Regions from separate parts of the Homo sapiens genome. Here region 2 is linked to region 1. A link means that fine-mapping ties the variant in region 1 to the expression of a gene that starts in the linked region. Tissue or cell type: whole blood. Region 1 holds a variant in brackets; the other region holds the start of a gene. All regions are shown on one strand. Distances are between the middles of the regions.

Evidence for each region. PIP is the estimated chance that this variant, and not a neighbour inherited with it, causes the effect.
Region 2: it holds the start of ZC3H18, and the variant in region 1 is fine-mapped to the expression of ZC3H18 in whole blood (TOPMed, PIP 0.97).

Annotation. Positions count from the first base shown.
Region 1 is chr16:88,601,853-88,609,931 of GRCh38, forward strand. ZC3H18 (zinc finger CCCH-type containing 18) reads left to right here. Exons shown (of 18, transcript NM_144604.4): 7 at 7,082-7,199. Among named protein-coding and RNA genes, the nearest start is that of IL17C, 33 kb to the right of the region's middle. RefSeq lists an enhancer at 5,299-5,799. The variant A/C (reference allele first, on the strand shown) is at 3,757.
Region 2 is chr16:88,566,119-88,574,197 of GRCh38, forward strand. ZC3H18 (zinc finger CCCH-type containing 18) reads left to right here and starts at 4,285. Exons shown (of 18, transcript NM_144604.4): 1 at 4,285-4,448. RefSeq lists enhancers at 3,466-3,575, 3,686-3,735, 4,826-4,875 and silencers at 3,976-4,305, 4,486-4,555.

The sequences.
Region 1 (8,079 bases):
ATGTGTCACAGTGGCGAGGTGCCCTGGCTGTTTCTGATAGACACAGTGGAAAGAACTGTCAGGGTTCTGCCAGGAGGGTGGAGACCCCCCTATGATTGTCACAAAGAGCATCTAAGGGAAGGGTGGGTCCACCAGGTAGGTTGCTACAGAGGAAAACAGTGAGTAGAGGGAGCCAGTACAGCTGGGCTGCTGAGACCCGGAGGGAAGGAAGGAGCTGCACTGCAAGTGCAGATGTCCTGGTGCGTGCTGTTGGCAGGAGTGGGTCCTCTTGTCACCCAGCCTTCTCGGTCCTACCTGTGCCCGCTGCAGGCAGGGCCTCACCTGGAACAGCTGGCAAAGCAGGTCGCAGCTTGTAGGGTGTGCAGGAGGGTGGCTGGCAGCCCAGTTGGCGGTCAGGCTCCAGGGCCTTAATGGCACAGAAGAGGCCAAGCCAGCAGCACTTATGTGTTGCAATCCTGCTGCATGACAGGCTTCGCATCCAGTGCTCCTGACCTGTTTTGGGTCACAGCAGGCCGAGGTCAGGGCCATGTCCCTGCCTCACAGGTGAGGAGAGTGCAACCTGGATTGATAGCTGTGACCTCCTGGTGTGGTGCCTTAACCTCAGCCACATCTGCCCCCAGCAGCATGTGAGAGGTCAGATTCTTAGCTCGACCCCAGGAAGACTGAGTCTGAAACTCCAGGGAGAGCCCAGGCCAGTGGTTTGTTTTTAACAAGCCCTCCAGGTAATTCTGATGCATATTAAAGTTTGAGAACCATTGATTGTAAGTAATTCCAGGGACACAAATTCTCTGAAGATACCATGTTATTTTATTTCCTAATGTCGAGAGTTTTCTGTTGGTTTTTTGAGATGAGGTCTTGCTATGTTGCTCAGGCTGGTCTCCAACTCCTGGACTCAAGCAATCCTCGCGCCTGAGCCTCCTAAGTTGCTGGGAATATAGACGTTAGCCACCTGATGTTGAGTTTTGCAAATAATTGTCACATAGAAGCACCTTCATGCAGGCAGGCTTTGCTTACTACAGGATGGAGCTCTAGGCACTTCATTGTAGAACCAGTGGAATATGAGGACTTTTCGAGAAGTCTTGAGGACATAAAGGACAAGAAAATTGTTGTTCCTTCTTTTTTTTTTTTTTGAGACGGAGTCTCGCTCTGTCACCCAGGCTGGAGTGTAGTGGTGCCATCTTGGCTCACTGTAAGCTCCGCCTCCTGGGTTCACGCCATTCTCCTGCCTCAGCCTCCCGAGTAGCTGGGACTACAGGCGCCCGCCACCACGCTCAGCCAATTTTTTGTATTTTTTAGTAGAGACAGGGTTTCACCATGTTAGCCAGGAATGGCCTCAATCTCTTGACCTCGTGATCTGCCTGCCTCGGCCTCCCAAAGTGCTGGGATGACAGGCGTGAGCCACCGCACCTGGCCTGTTTTTTCTTTATATCTCTTTTGGAATTAAAAACTGACCTAGCAGGATCACTTAGTAAACATAATACTTTGTGGCCGGGCACGGTGGCTCACGCCTGTAATCCCAGCACTTTGGGAGGCCAAAGCGGACGGATTGCCTGAGCTCAAGAGTTTGAGACCAGGCTGGGCAACACGGTGAAACCCCATCTCTACTAAAATACAGAAGAAATTAGCAGGGCGTGGCAGCATGCACCTGTAATCCCAGCTACTTGGGAGGCTGAGGCAGGAGAATTGCTCGAACCTGGGAGGCGGAGGTTGCCAGTGAGCCAAGATCATGCCCCTGCACTCCAGCCTGGGCAACAGAGCGAGACTCCGTCTCTTTTTTTTTTTTTTTTTGAGACGGAGTCTGGCTCTGTCGCCCAGCGTGGAGTGCAGTGGCGCAATCTGGGCTCACTGCAAGCTCTGCCTCCTGGGTTCACGCCATTCTTCTGCCTCAGCTTACCAAGTAGCTGGGACTACAGGTGCCTGCCACCATGCCCGGCTAATTTTTTTTTTTTTTTTTGTATTTTTAGTAGAGATGGGGTTTCACCATGTTAGCCAGGTTGGTCTCGATCTCCTGACCTTGTGATCCACCGGCCTTGGCCTCCCAAAGTGCTGGGATTACAGGCGTGAGCCACCGTGCCCAGCCCCATTTCTTAAAATAATAATAATAATAATACTTTGCTAGACAGACGCACTCTGATTCGCAGCTTTAAATATTCCGTTTCTACCACCTCAAGCACTTTGTTCAGGTACCATCTGACTTATAAAACCTCACATATTGGCTGGATACAGTAGCTAGTAATGTCTATAATCCTAGTGTTTTGGGAGGTCAAGGTTGGCAGATCAGTTGAGCTCGGGAGTTGAAGACCAGTCTGGACAACATGGCAAAACCCCATCTCTACAAAATATACAAAAATTAGTTGGGCATGGTGGCACGCACCTGTAGTCCCAGCTACTCAAGAGTCTGAGGTGGGAGAATCTCTTGAGCCCGAGAGGTGGAGGTTGCAGCAAGTGAGATCGTGCCACTGCACTCCAGCCTGGGTGACTGAGTGAGACTCTTTCTCCAAAAAAAAAAAAAAAAGTTCTCACATATGTAAGACATTAAGAAATGAAATGACGGCCGGGCACAGTGGCTCACGCCTGTAATCCCAGCACTCTGGGAGGCTGAGGCAGGCAGATCACAGGGTCAGGAGATTGAGACCGTTCTGGCTAACATGGTGAAACCCCATCTCTACTAAAAATACAAAAAATTAGCCAGGCGTGGTGGCGGACACCTGTAGTCCCAGCTACTCGGGAGGCTGAGGCAGGAGAATGGCGTGAACCCAGGAGGCGGAGCTTACAGTGAGCCGAGATGGCGCCACTGCACTCCAGCCTGGGCGACAGAGCAAGACTCCATCTCAAAGAAAAAAAAAGAAATGTCATCTCTGCATAGGGCTCCTGGGGATGCTGTGCCCAGAATATTCTACAAGTCTAATAGGGACATGTGACCCAAAAGACACAAGGGCCTCTAGTGCGCACAGGACGTCACCTGTGAGAAATGCGGTCATCAGTAGTAGCCCCACCGTGAACAGAGTTTCTGATTAAATCAGAGTCAGGCTGTCAGGCCATGGCCAGGGCCATGGACTGGGCCCCTGCCAACTCCCCATACGCCCCCAGCACAGAGAGTAGTGCAGTGCCGGTGTATTAGAGGCGGAGGTGCAGGCTGCTGTTCTTTGGAGTAGGATGTCAGGCTGGGATACAGAGGAAACAGAACAGTAATTTTCAAAAAGCACACTCCCTTTCCTCAGGTAACAGGTCTACCAGATGCTGGTCCAGCACCTCCTTTGTCCCAGATGCTTAACTGAGAGAGCACAAGTGGCTTTTACCTGGGATTTGCTGGTGCCCTGTGGGGAAGCCCCCTGAGTGAGCAGGGAGGGAGGGTTGGGCTACCTGGAGAGTAAGACAGGGCCTGCTCCACATGGGTAAGCCCACAGTCCCACAGACTCAGGGCAGATGGATGTATGGGTGCCCAGGCATTGCCTGTGGCCTCTGCATGCCTTTGGGGACCTCCTCCCCTGCCTGCACTTTCAGTGGCCAGCGTTGCAACAGGAACGTGGGCAACAGGCAGGTGGGCACCAGGTCGACCATGCTGGGTTGGGGTGAGGGCAAGAGGCAGCAGGGGGCTGCGTCGCTGCTCCCTTTGTGAGCTGCCTGGGACCCTCCTTTTCACCTTGGGTCTCTGCAGCAAGCAGGGACACGTGAGCATCTGACTCCCACCCTTTGCAGAGCACAGCCTCCCTCCACCTGGGTTGAGGTCAGCACGATTTCAACCTGAATTGTGCA[A/C]ATGCAAGTTGCATTTCATTGTGTAATATTGCATAACCCTTAGATTAAAAGTGAGTAGTGTTAGACATTTTAGAACTTTTTCCTAGTACTTTTTGAGATCCAGTTTCCTTGTCACTGAAATGAAATGGTTAAACAAAGTGATCTCGAAGCTCCAAACTTCTGTCTTACACGTTCTCTAATTGCTCGACTTTTCACCTGCCATGCCTCTCCCTGGGCAAGGCTGTGGGCAGAAACCACCTGCCCCTGATGGGCATGTCCAATGGTTCCCCTTAGCCAGGACCTCGGGTTCTCCTCTCCAGCGAGGAGTAGGTCCACTCCACGTGCCAGTGCTGAGTCTGACGCTGCCCAGACCTCTGGGGACGCGGGGCCTCTGGAGTGCAGATTCCACGTGTGTGCACAGGACACTGTTGGTGTTGGCTGGTTAAGTGGTGACTGCAGAACGAGGTGCGAGCCTCCCAGTTGCTGCGAGCCAGCTTTGCCCAACCTTGCTTCACCACAGAACCCTTTTCTCAAAAGGCCCATTAACATTTTGGGTTCCCTAAAACAGTTGGGGAAGAGTTTGTGCATACCATGATACTGCCCAGTAGCATTTATTTTTAAATTGAATTAAATACCTTCCAAATTCATTTCAAGAGTGTTTCAGAATTTTTCAGGATGGTGCTGAGGAGTCCGTTGTTGGCATGGTTGCAGTTCCTGGTGGCGTGTTGTGTTGACACGTTCTCTAGAACGCATGCTGCGGAGCAGATGGTTCCGAGGCAGCCACGCTGAGGAAATGCTGTGTGCCTCATTCCTATCCGCTCATCCACGACTTCCAGAAAGCCTGCAGGAAAGAGGCCTTTTCATTTTGCTTAAGTACAGTTTCCCAAAAACAAATTTGCCGGCACAGTCCTCTTGTCAGAGAACACACGCCTCACACATTTTGGGAAAGGCTTTTCTACCCTATTGGGCTTACGCAATCAGCCTCAGCCCACCGAGTAGTTGGGGGCCACAGCCATGCACCACCAGACCTGGCTGCTGATGTGTTTTTTGTAGAGACGGTGTCTCGCGTGCTGTCCAGGCTTCCTCTTCGTTTTTATGTAGCCTGATGTCATATTGCCACAGGTCTCTACAAATGTTTCCTGAGTGTTATAATTCAGTGTGATTTGAGTAGTGTGCACATTAGATTGAACGGTGTCCGACTGATGGGAACGGACTGAAGCTGTGTCCTTTGGGAGAGCCAGTTCTAGGCCATGTGGAGAGTTGAGGAGGCCTCGAGGGTGTTCGTAGCCACCCATCGCTGGAGCCACCTCAAGCCATGATGCCTCAGGTTCCCACCCAGTCTACCCGAAGCAGAGGGTTGGCTTGTGGCTGAGACATACCCTGGAGGGGCGTCCAGGGACCTCCTATTGCTAGTGTACACTTTGTTTCCTCTGCTCCACAGGAAAGGAGATGCAGAGTTGTGGGCCCCGCCAGGAGTTTAGAGCAGGCCCCCCCCAACCCTGTGCGCAGTGGGGAAGAGAGCCTGACCTTCCCAGCAGCTGGACAGTCGTCCCCTCCCTGTTCAATGAAGAATCCCCTCTGTCCCTGAGATGCCACCTCTCTGGGCGTGCCTGGGTCTGCCTCTGGACCTCCTGCCTCCTCCTTCTGGCCGCCGGTTTTCATGTGCTGCGATGGCACTGGCTTAATTATACAGGCTTTTTAGGATGTTTAATGTCTCAGAGGGCGTGTCTGGCGTGTCTTTTCATTTCCAGGGTTTTCTTGGCTGTTCTTGGGGTGCGATTTTTCATGTGAACTTGGGTGTCAGCTTGTCTGGCTCCTTAAAGAAGCTCATTGGTGTTTTTGCTGGGATTGTGTTAAATTTATCAGTCAGTGTAGGAAGGACTGACTTGTGGGCGATTCCGAGCTGCGCTCTCCCAGTGCAAGAGGCGTCTCCCCATTATTCATGCACGCTTTGTGTCAGGTTTCAAAACCCCCATTTATTCATGCACACTTTGTATCAGGCGTCTCCCCATTTATTCACACGCTTCATGTCTCTCAGGCGTCTCCCCATTTATTCACAGGCTTCATGTCACGTGTCTCCCCATTTATTCACACACGCTTCATGTCTCTCAGGCGTCTCCCCATTTATTCACACACACTTCATGTCTCTCAGGCATCTCCCCATTTATTCACACACACTTCATGTCTCTCAGGCATCTCCCCATTCACATGCTTCATGTCAGGCGTCTCCCCATTTATTCACGCACGCTTCATGTCTCTCAGGCGTCTCCCCACTTATTCACACACACTTTGTGTCTCTCAGGAATCAGCTCTGCACATTTCTGGTGAAATGTGTTGATATTTTATTCCTAAGTACTTTTTTCTTCTTTCTTGCTATTGTAAATGCGGTTTTCTCCACTCTGCCTCCTAACTGGTTATAATCTGTGTCTGTGAAGACACTGATTTCTATGTTAATTTTTTTATCCTCTGCCTTTCCAAGTTTCTTCATTGTTTGTTTGAATTGGCTTTATCAAGTCTCTGGGTTTTTCATGTATAGTATCATATCATTTTGCAAATCTGAGCTCGTTTTGCTCCTTGTTTTCGTGTTCTTGTGCCTCTAGTGGGCTCCCCTTGTCCAGTCAGGGGGTGCCTCCACACAGGGACAGGTGGTTGCGGAGACTCCTGGGGGAGCTCCTCCTATTCCCCAGTGAGTAAGGTGCTGACTTTTGTTCCAAAGTGTGTCAGTATATTTTTATCATGCTAAAGTATCACTTCCTATTTTCTTTCCTTTTTTTTTTTTCTTATTTAATTTTCAAGACGGAGTTTCACTCTTGTTGCCCAGGCCGGAGTGCAATGGCACAGTCTCGGCTCATGGCAACCTCCACCTCCTGGGTTCAAGTGATTCTCCTGCCTCAGCCTCCTGAGTAGCTGGGATTACAGGCATGTGCCACCACGCCCAACTAATTTTGTATTTTTAGTAGAGAAGGGGTTTCTCCATGTTGGTCAGGCTGCTCTCAAACTCCTGACCTCAGGTGATCCACCTGCCTCGGCCTCCCACGGTGCTGGGATTACAGGCATGAGCCACCACACCTGGCCCTCACTTCCTATTTTCTTGAGTATTTTTTATCAAAAAGGCTATTGAATTTTTGTTAGACATTTTTATCATCTGTGAATAGAACCCTTTGACTTCTGGCCTGCTCTTAGATGTAGTTTGTGAACAGATTTCCTAACCTTGAGCCAACCTTGCGCTCCTGGAGTAAACCCCACTGCGTCACGGTCTGTTACTTTCTGTCCCTAATGTTTCGTGTGGTCTTTTTACGCCAGTGCTCCTAAGTGATGAGAGTTCTTTTTCATTGGCCCTTTTCAGACTCGAGCCTTACGCAGACCCTTATTATGACTATGAAATTGAGCGGTTTTGGCGTGGCGGACAGTATGAGAATTTCAGGGTGCAGTATACAGAAACAGAGCCGTATCATAATTACCGAGTAAGTATGACTTCAATATCCACATATGAACTTCATGATCTGTTCATTCAAGTTATCCCTTTTTATTTACAGTAAAAAATACAGGGCTTTATATGAGCTTATAGAGCCAGCACAATGTACCAATTTGAAAACCAAATTGATTGTTACGGAGAACGAATTCAGAGGCAGCGATTACATTAATGGTCATTTGAACAAAGACTTGCCTGAAAACTGGTTCTTGCTATGGTTTTGTTTTTTTGTGTGGTGTTTGTTTGTTTGTTTTTTGAGATAGGGTCCCACTCTGTCACCCAGGCTGGAGTGCAGCGGTGCAATCTCGGCTCACTGCAACCTCTACCTCCTGGGTTCAAATGATTCTCCATCCTCAGCCTCCCGAGTAGCTGGGACCACACGCATGCACCACCATGCCCAGCTAATTTTTTTGTATTTTTTTTGTAGAGACGGGGTTTTACCATGTTGTCCAGGCTGGTTTTGAACTCCTGAGCTCAAGCAATCCGCCTGCTTTAGCCTCCCAGAGTGCTGGGATTAAAGACATGAGCCACTGCGCCCGGCCTGGGTTGTTTGTTTTGGAGACGGAGTTTAACTCTGTCACCCAGGCTGGAGTTCAGTGGCGTGATCTCACCTCACTGCAACCTCTGCCTCCCAGATTCAAGCAATTCTCCTGCCTCAGCCTCCTGAGTAGCTGGGATTACAGGTGCCCACCATCACACCTGGCTAATTTTTTGTATTTTTAGTAGAGACAGGGTTTTGCCGTGTTGGTCAGGCTGGTCTCAAACTTCCGATCTCAGGTGATCTGCCTATCTCAGCCTCCCAAAGTGCTGGGATTACAGGCATAAGTCACTGTGCCCAGCTCGGCCTGGTTTTGAAAATGAGATTTGCCAGT
Region 2 (8,079 bases), 36 kb before region 1:
CCAACATGGTGAAACCCTGTCTCTACTAAAAATACAAAAATTAGCCAGGCATGATGTCCCATGCCTGCAGCCCCAGCTACTCAGGAGATTGAAGCAGAAGAATTGCTTGAGCCCAGGAGACAGAGGTTGTGGTGAGCCGAGATCAGGCCACTGCACTCTAATGTGGGTGACAGAGGGAGACTCCGTCTCAGGAAAAGAAAAAAAAGACACACCCACCAGTGTTCTGTGTCAGTTTACCATCGCCATGGCAACACTCCCACCCCTTTCCATGGCAATGACTCAGTGACCCAGAAGTGACTACTCCTTCCCCAGAAATTTCTGCATAAACTGCCCCTTAATCTGCATGTAATTAAAAGTGGGTATAATGGGTCTGCAGAAGTGCGTTGAGCTGCTGCTCTCTGCCTTCTGGGCAGCCCAGCTCTGCAGGAGCCGTCACGGACCTGCCACACTGCCTCTTCAATCAAGTTGTTCTCTTCTACCTCCGGCTTGTCCTTGAATTCTTTCTTGGGCAAAGCCAAGAACGCTGGCAGGCTAAGCTCCACTTTGGGCCTCACCTGCCCTGCATCACAACCAACCAGCCCGTATCGGGACACGATCATTGACTTAAGTCCACAGTTTACATTACAGTTCACTCTTGGCGTTGTGCGTTATGTGGGTTTTGGCAAATACGTAACGTCCCATAGCTGCCATTATGGGACATTACATATTTGTACTTCTTCATACAGAAGAGTTTTGCCACCCCAGAAATGAGGCTTAAAAGTCATTTACCCACTTCCTGCTCTGGAAGAGGAGGGTCTGTGCTCTCACCGCCTGGCACGCCGTGTTCCATCCAGCCTCTGCTCTCTGAATGGTTTTTAGGCTAAATAAAATGTTTACTAAATATTTTTAAGCACTAATAACAATAACGGCCTTATGCAGTGGCTCACACCTGTAATCCCAGCACTTTGGAAGGCCAAGGTGGGAGGATCGCTTGAGGCCCAGAGTTTGAGACCAGCCTGGGCAACAGAGTGAGACCCCCACCTCTACAAGACCCCCACCTCTACGAAATGAACAAATAAACAAACATGATGGACTCCAGCTTAAAAACAGAACATCCCAACCAGGTCACGCTACTGACTATCAGCCCCCACCGCAGGCTCCGTGGCACTGCCTCCTGGTCACTGCTCCTGGGGCCCCCATCACCGCAGATTCGGCTGCCTGTAATGAGTCGCAGCAACACGAGCCGAAGCATTTGTGTCTGGTTTCTTCTGCGCAACATCCTGCCTCTGAGATCCATGTTGCTTGTAGGGGTAGCGTGTCCTTTTCGTTCCTGTACGATATTCCATTGCATGGGGGTTACACCCCAGCTGGTTCATCGTTCTGTCACTGAAGCACCTTGGGGTTCCTTCTAGTCCGGAGTGTAACGAGTCATGCTGGGGTGAACGATCTTGGATGTGCCTTTTGCTGGACGTAGCAGCTCATCTCTTCCGGGAAGTCACAGAGGAGTAGCACGGCCCAGGTGCCGCCGCACGAAGGCTGCGGTTCCGTGAGCGCCGTCGCAGGCTTCTGGAGCGGGGCCACCATTTTCACTCGAGCACAGGCCGCAGGCTCTGGGTGCCCCACACCCTCAGCAAAACCGCTCATGATTTCAATTTGATAGAAACGTGGACCGGGCGCAGTGGCTCACGCCTGTAATCCCAACACTTTGGGAGGCCGAGGCGGGAGGATCACGAGGTCAGAAGATCGAGACCGTCCTGGCTAACACGGTGAAACCCCGTCTCCACTAAAAATACAAAAAAATTAGCCGGGCGTGGTGGCGGGCGCCTGTAGTCCCAGCTACTCGGGAGGCTGAGGCAGGAGAATCGCTTGAACCCAGGGGGCGGAGGTGGCAGGGAGCCGAGATGGCGCTACTGCACTCCAGCCTGGGCGACAGAGTGAGACTCTGTCTCAAAAAAAAAAAAAAAGAAAGAAAGAAAGAAAAGAAATGTGCCCACCCTGTCTGCTTCTGCACTTGCCTTTGTCATGCAACCTCACAGATGGTCTTCACCCGTTTATTTATATCTGTGTATACACACTGGAGGTTCATGCGTTAGCATTTTTAACAACCGCGATGTTGCAAATGTTGTACCAGATTACTATTACAACAGTACAATCATCTGCTCATCAACATCTGGGTGGTTTTCTGGTTTTTTCCTTTGTTCTTTTTTTTTCTTGAGACGGAGTCTCGCTCTGTTGCCCAGGCTGGAGTGCAGTGGCATGATCTGGGCTCACTGCAAACTCCGCCTCCCGGGTTCATGCCATTCTCCTGCCTCAGCCTCCCGAGTAGCTGGGACTACAGGCGCCCGCCACCACGCCCGGCTAATTTTTTGTATTTTTAGTAGAGACGGGGTTTCACTGTGTTAGCCAGCATGGTCTCGATCTCCTGACCTCGCGATCTGCCCGCCTCGACCTCCCAAAGTGCTGGGATTACAGGCATGAGCCACCGTGCCCGGCTCCTTTGTTCTTTTAGTTATGACTACTAACAGACCTGCTATGTCCTTGTTCATGTCTCATGCCCACGGGCAGATGACACCCCAGTCCGGTGGCCCACCTGTACCACTGGGCATCAGAATCCCCTGAGAGCTCTTCATGGACCACAGGGCCCTGGGACCTCACTCCCAGTCACTGGTGCGGCCACTCTGGGGCAGAGCCCAGGAAGGCACATTGCTAACAACCCCTAGTGATACTGAGGCTGCTTGCCCGGGTCCCACTTGGAGAACCCTGTCGAGGGTGGCACTGCTGGTCACAGGGCACTTCTTTTAACTAACATTGTTTTCCAAAGAGGCTGTGACCAACAGAGTTTACTGTTCATGAAACTCAGATCGCAGACAGGCACGTGTCTGTCACAGCCGGTGCCGGCCGCTCCTTTCCATGGACAGTAACGTCCATGCAGGCTTATGTTCATCAGCTGAGAAAAGGGCACTTGCTGGGTGGGACCTTGTCTTATCGACACATAGAGTCTGCAGAAGGTGCCAACTGGTGTCGCAGGGCTGCTCCTGACACGACCCAAAATCACCAGGGTTGAATTCACATTCCTCTTACGTAACCATAACAAGTTGCTGGGACTACAGGCACGCACCACGGTGCCCTGTTAATTTTTTTGTAGAGACAGGGGTCTTGCTTTGTTGCCCAGGCTGGTCTCAAACTCCTGGAGGAGGTGGTCCTCCCACCTTGGACTCCCAAAGTGCTAGGATTACAGGTGTGAGCCACAGTGCCAGGCCTGTGGTACCTCTTCCAAGGACACTAATCCTATCAGATCAGGACCCCACCCTTATAATCTCATTTAACCTTAATTACTTCTCTAAAGGCCCTTTCTGCAAACACAGTCACATTGGGGATTAAGGCTTCACATACAAATGTTAGGGGGACAGAACTCGGTCCATAGCATGGAGTCGCACAGGTTTTGTCCTTTTGCGATTGGCTTGCTTTACTTAGTATGTTTCCAAGGTTCACCCATGTTGTGGCATGGGTCTGAACTTCACTCTTCTTGATGACTGACTCACACTCCACTGCATGGACAGCCAGCATTTTGTCTGTTCCTCAGTTTGTGGACATCTCGCCCCCTTGTTTCCACCTTGGGGATATGGAGGAAGATGGGATGAGCGAAGCCCTGTGATCCCCAGGACCAGCCACGTCGTTGGCAAGGGTCAGCGCAGGATGAAACCGCCGGCCCCTGGTCTCCGGCCGGGCCCTCCGTCTCTAGAGCAGCTCGCACCGCTGCAGCCCCTGGACGCCCCGGGCTGTGGACGCGCCCGTGGGACACCGCGCTGAGCAGGACACGCGACAGGTCCCCTCACTGGCGCTGCTCGCGTTGAACCGCGCGGGGAGCCAGGCAGCCCACGGGAAAGGTAAGAATTGTTAGGCTTTTAATCTAAAGTCGATACCTCAAAAAATAATTCCGGAGGTAAGCATTTAATATCAACATTCAATAAAGCAGGAAGTATCAGCCCGACGAAGACCGCCTTAAGTTTTCCACTTTGATGAACTCGATCATCCCCGGGGATGAAGAACCCGCCGGCCCAGCCGGAGCCCCGTCACGTGACCCGGCGGCCGCGGGGAGCTCTGTGCGCAGGCGCGGATCCGCACGCCCGCCGCCTGAGAAGCGAACTCCCCGTGGCGCCTGCGCTGTAGCGGGGGTTCGGCTGGCTCGCGCGGGTCCGGGCGCGCGCTGCGGGGGCGGAACCGCGCGGAGGCCGGAAGGAAGCTGGAGGGGGCGGGGCGAGGGAGGGAAGCCCGCCGGCCGTAGGACTACCGTCGCGGCCTGATGACGTCGCACAATGGCCGGCCCCCGCGGGTAGTGGAGCCCGTTTGTTCCGCCCGTGTCGAGCCTGGAGCCAGAACCTGTGAAGAGCGGAAGGGCCAAGGGACGTCTTCTCCACGCCGCTCCGACTCCAGGGGAGCCGTGGCCTCCTCTCCGCCCTAGCGCTGAGGTTAGCTGGGGCCGGGAGGGCGGCGGGAGGCCGGGCCGGCGGCGGCGGGAGGAGGAGGCCGCCGAGGCGGCGGCGGCGGCCGCGGGAGGGAGGCCCGGGAGCCCGGCGCGCCTCCGGCCGTGCGGACCCACCGGCCGAAGCGTGGCCCTCGGGCCCAGGGAAGGGGACCTTGAGACAGGCACCACCCCGAGTTCCGTCCGTAAGCCGGCCCCGCGGTCCTGGGGCGCCCTGGGCGCCCGAGCTCCTCGCGCGCTGCCTCCGCGCCCCGCGGCAGAGTTTATTTTCCTGAAGCTGTCATTTCTCTTCCGGGCCACTCGCGTGGCACATGTGTGCCGCCGGCTAAGGGGCGGTGAGAGGCGCCCAGATTCACCTCCAGAGTAGGTCATCCCGGGCTGCTGCTGGGCTCTTCGGAGAACTTTGAGCTCTTTATGAACCTCCTGGAACTTGCTCCGCAGCTTCAAAGTGTGCACAGGTTGGGCGCAGTGATTGCCCCAAGACGCGCGCCGGTCTCTTAGGAGTATGTAACTTCCTTGCCCCTTGGATTAGGAGATCAGAGGTGCTGGGTCCTTTATATAGACCAACTGCAGCTATAATGCTGGAAGAACTGAAACTTAACAGCCTTACTCCTGCCAAACATTTTTCCTGAATACTTTATGACAACTGAGTTTGCCGGGTAGAGTGGCCGTTTTAAATGAGCTTTGTTCGAACAACGCTAACTCATTTGCAAGAGTAGGTCATTCTTCAGACCCATTTGGGAAAATGGAAGAAGAGAGTGTTTGGCATCTGAAGTACCGTTTGGGGTGTAGCAAGGTGCTCATCATGTCTCCTGTTAGACTCACCTCCAGCCTGTTGTCTGTAGAGTAGTCCTTTCCCGTTCAGTAGTTGGGATTATCCGGGTGAGGTTTGACCTCGGCTGAATCCCGCTTCCCAGCTTTGGGAGGAGAGTCTTTTCCTGATAATTTTACTATCTAAGGGCAGTATGGAGCCCAGCCAGCCCTGGAACCAGTCAAATGTGTCCCAAAGCCGGAAACTCCTCTCCCGTTGTAGGTGGGACATGCTGAAATATTGTAAGAAAGCTTTGTGGAGTCACTCCAGAAAGCAAACAGGTAAGTTAACCTATGGCCTACATCGTGTTTACAGAGATTTGTATTTTGTCACAGCTACAGAGCATCTCAAGGTGAGTACCTCTTTATCAAGGAGTTTAGTGGTCACGCTTGGTCACTTTGCACGTGGGGTCTGTCACCAACCTTGATAACGTTCATTTAGATATTTTAAGTCCATGAGGTTATGAGTCAGAATTTTAACCAGATGTACCAGAACTTAGGCATTCAAATAGGTACTGCTCTGTTGAAAGTAATTGTCCCAAAATGTGCTTGTATTTCATCGGTGCTTCTTTGCCAGAATCTCTTTAGAACTCCTGTTGTGGTAGTAAAAATGTAGTCATATGGGAAAATCAGTCTTATTCAATAGTCACCCTCCAGGTTTGACCAAAAGTTTACTTACGTGGTTGGTAGCTCACCTTATCAGGTGAGACTCTGACTTGCAGCACTTTATCAAAGTGACTAGCTTGAGAGGAGGAAGATTTGCCACCACTAAGAATACCAGAAGACTTCTTTAGGCTTGGAAGGTCATTCGCAATGAGAAGGTCCCCAAACGCTCTGCATTTCAGCAGTGCCGTTGGAGTCTGTGCATCCTCCCAGAGGGGCTGCTCGGAAGGGAGGTAGCACCTGCTCTTTATTATTACTATTATTTTTTGAGACGGAGTCTCACTCTGTTGCCCAGGCTGGAGTGCAGTGGCAGGATCTCGGCTCACCGCAACCTCCTCCTCCTGGGCACTTATTTTAAATTCCTTTCTGGTAGGCAACAGGTAGTTCCTCAATTAACGAGTTTTTTGTCATGTATTCAACAAATATCTATCAAGTATCATCTGCCAAATGCAGAAAGCAACGGAGACGGGACGATGGGCACTTGTTATTTCATTCCTTAGGCAAGTTCACCCATCTGGTGGATCAGAGGACTAAGGATTTAGTTCTAAATTGTGCTGAAAATCTTCAGTTATAGATAGTGTAAGAAGACCAAACTGAGCACAAATTGCAAACGTGGGTATCAGTTGAGACTCTTCTACTGACACCCCTGTCTACACTTCTCATTTCATTGTCTACACTTAAGAGGCCACGTTTCCCTTCGTAGCACCTTATTACTATTTTTTGAAACGGAGTCTCACTCTGCTACCCAGGCTGGAGTGCAGTGGCATGATCTCGGCTCACTGCAACCTCCTCCTCCTGGGTTCAAGTGATTCTCCTGCCTCAGCCTCCTGAGTAGCTGGGACTACAGGCACGTGCCACCATGCCCAGCTAATTTTTGTATTTTTAGTAGAGACAGGGGTTTCACTGTGTTGGCCAAGGTGATCTCGAACTCCCAACCTCGTGATCCTCCCGCTTCAGCCTCCCAAAGTGCTGGGATTACAGGCATGAGCCACCACACCCAGCCAATTGTGTGATTTTTAAAACTAGTTTGAGGAGACATTTAGTTTTGCATAAAAGTTGGTTTATTTAAGAGATCACTTTGTTTCCAAGGTTGACATTAAACTATAAAACATGAGAATCAGAATTTGTCATATTTCAGGTCTGGGTTCAGCTTGGGGCATCCTACTGGGCACCAGGCGCTCCGCTTAGGCAGCTGGGGAGATGTGAACTACCTGCCCTTCTATGAGGAAGATGTTTATACATTGTAATAAAAAGTGTACGAAGATAGTATAGGGTGTTACTAATGTCGATAGCTAGGCAAGAGAGAGAATTGCCAGTTTGCCACCGGTGACTTACTGCCACAACCCCACGCAGACTCCCAGTCTTGAACAGTCAGTGCGTAGAGGCCTTAGCAGCCTTGGTGCTTTTCATCCTTGCTTTTGTTGCCTTGGGCTGCAGAAATGCTCTGTGCATCAAGCGCCCCTGTGATACTGTTTGGGGATCAGCTCCTTGACTTTCCCATTTTCAGCAGTGTATACCAGTTTAGGACTACCTTTAATAAAAAGACGAGGGTCTTACCATGTTATCTAGGCTGGACTCGAACTCTTGGGCTCGAGTGATTCTCCCACCTCAACCACACAAGTAGCCGGGATTCCAGGTACATGCCACCACTCCTGGCTTAGGACTGACTTTTTAATAATTCCTCCCAGTAGTCCTGTCTCTGGATAGTAACCGAATAGTGTACTTAGAAAACCAAAAAGTGAATCATTTTCAGAACTGTCTGCTTTTAAGTGACTTGGAATGGATTGGTTGGTTTGTAAATCTATGTTATTGCTAACCATTTAGGTTTTTTTTTTTGAGACGGAGTTTTGCTCTTTTTGCCCATGCTGGAGAGCAATGACACAATCTTGGCTCACTGCAACCTCCGCCCCCCCGAGTTCAAGCAATTCTCCTGCCTCAGCCTCCCGAGCAGCTGGGATTACAGATGCCCACCACCATGCCCAGCTAATGTTTTGTATATTTAGTAGAGACAAGGTTTCACCATTTTGACCGGGCTTGTCCTGAACTCCTGACCTCAGGTGATCCACCCGCGTCAGTCTTCCAAAGTGCTGGGATTACAGGCGTGAGCCACCACCCTTGGCCCATTTAGTTTTTATAAAGTGATG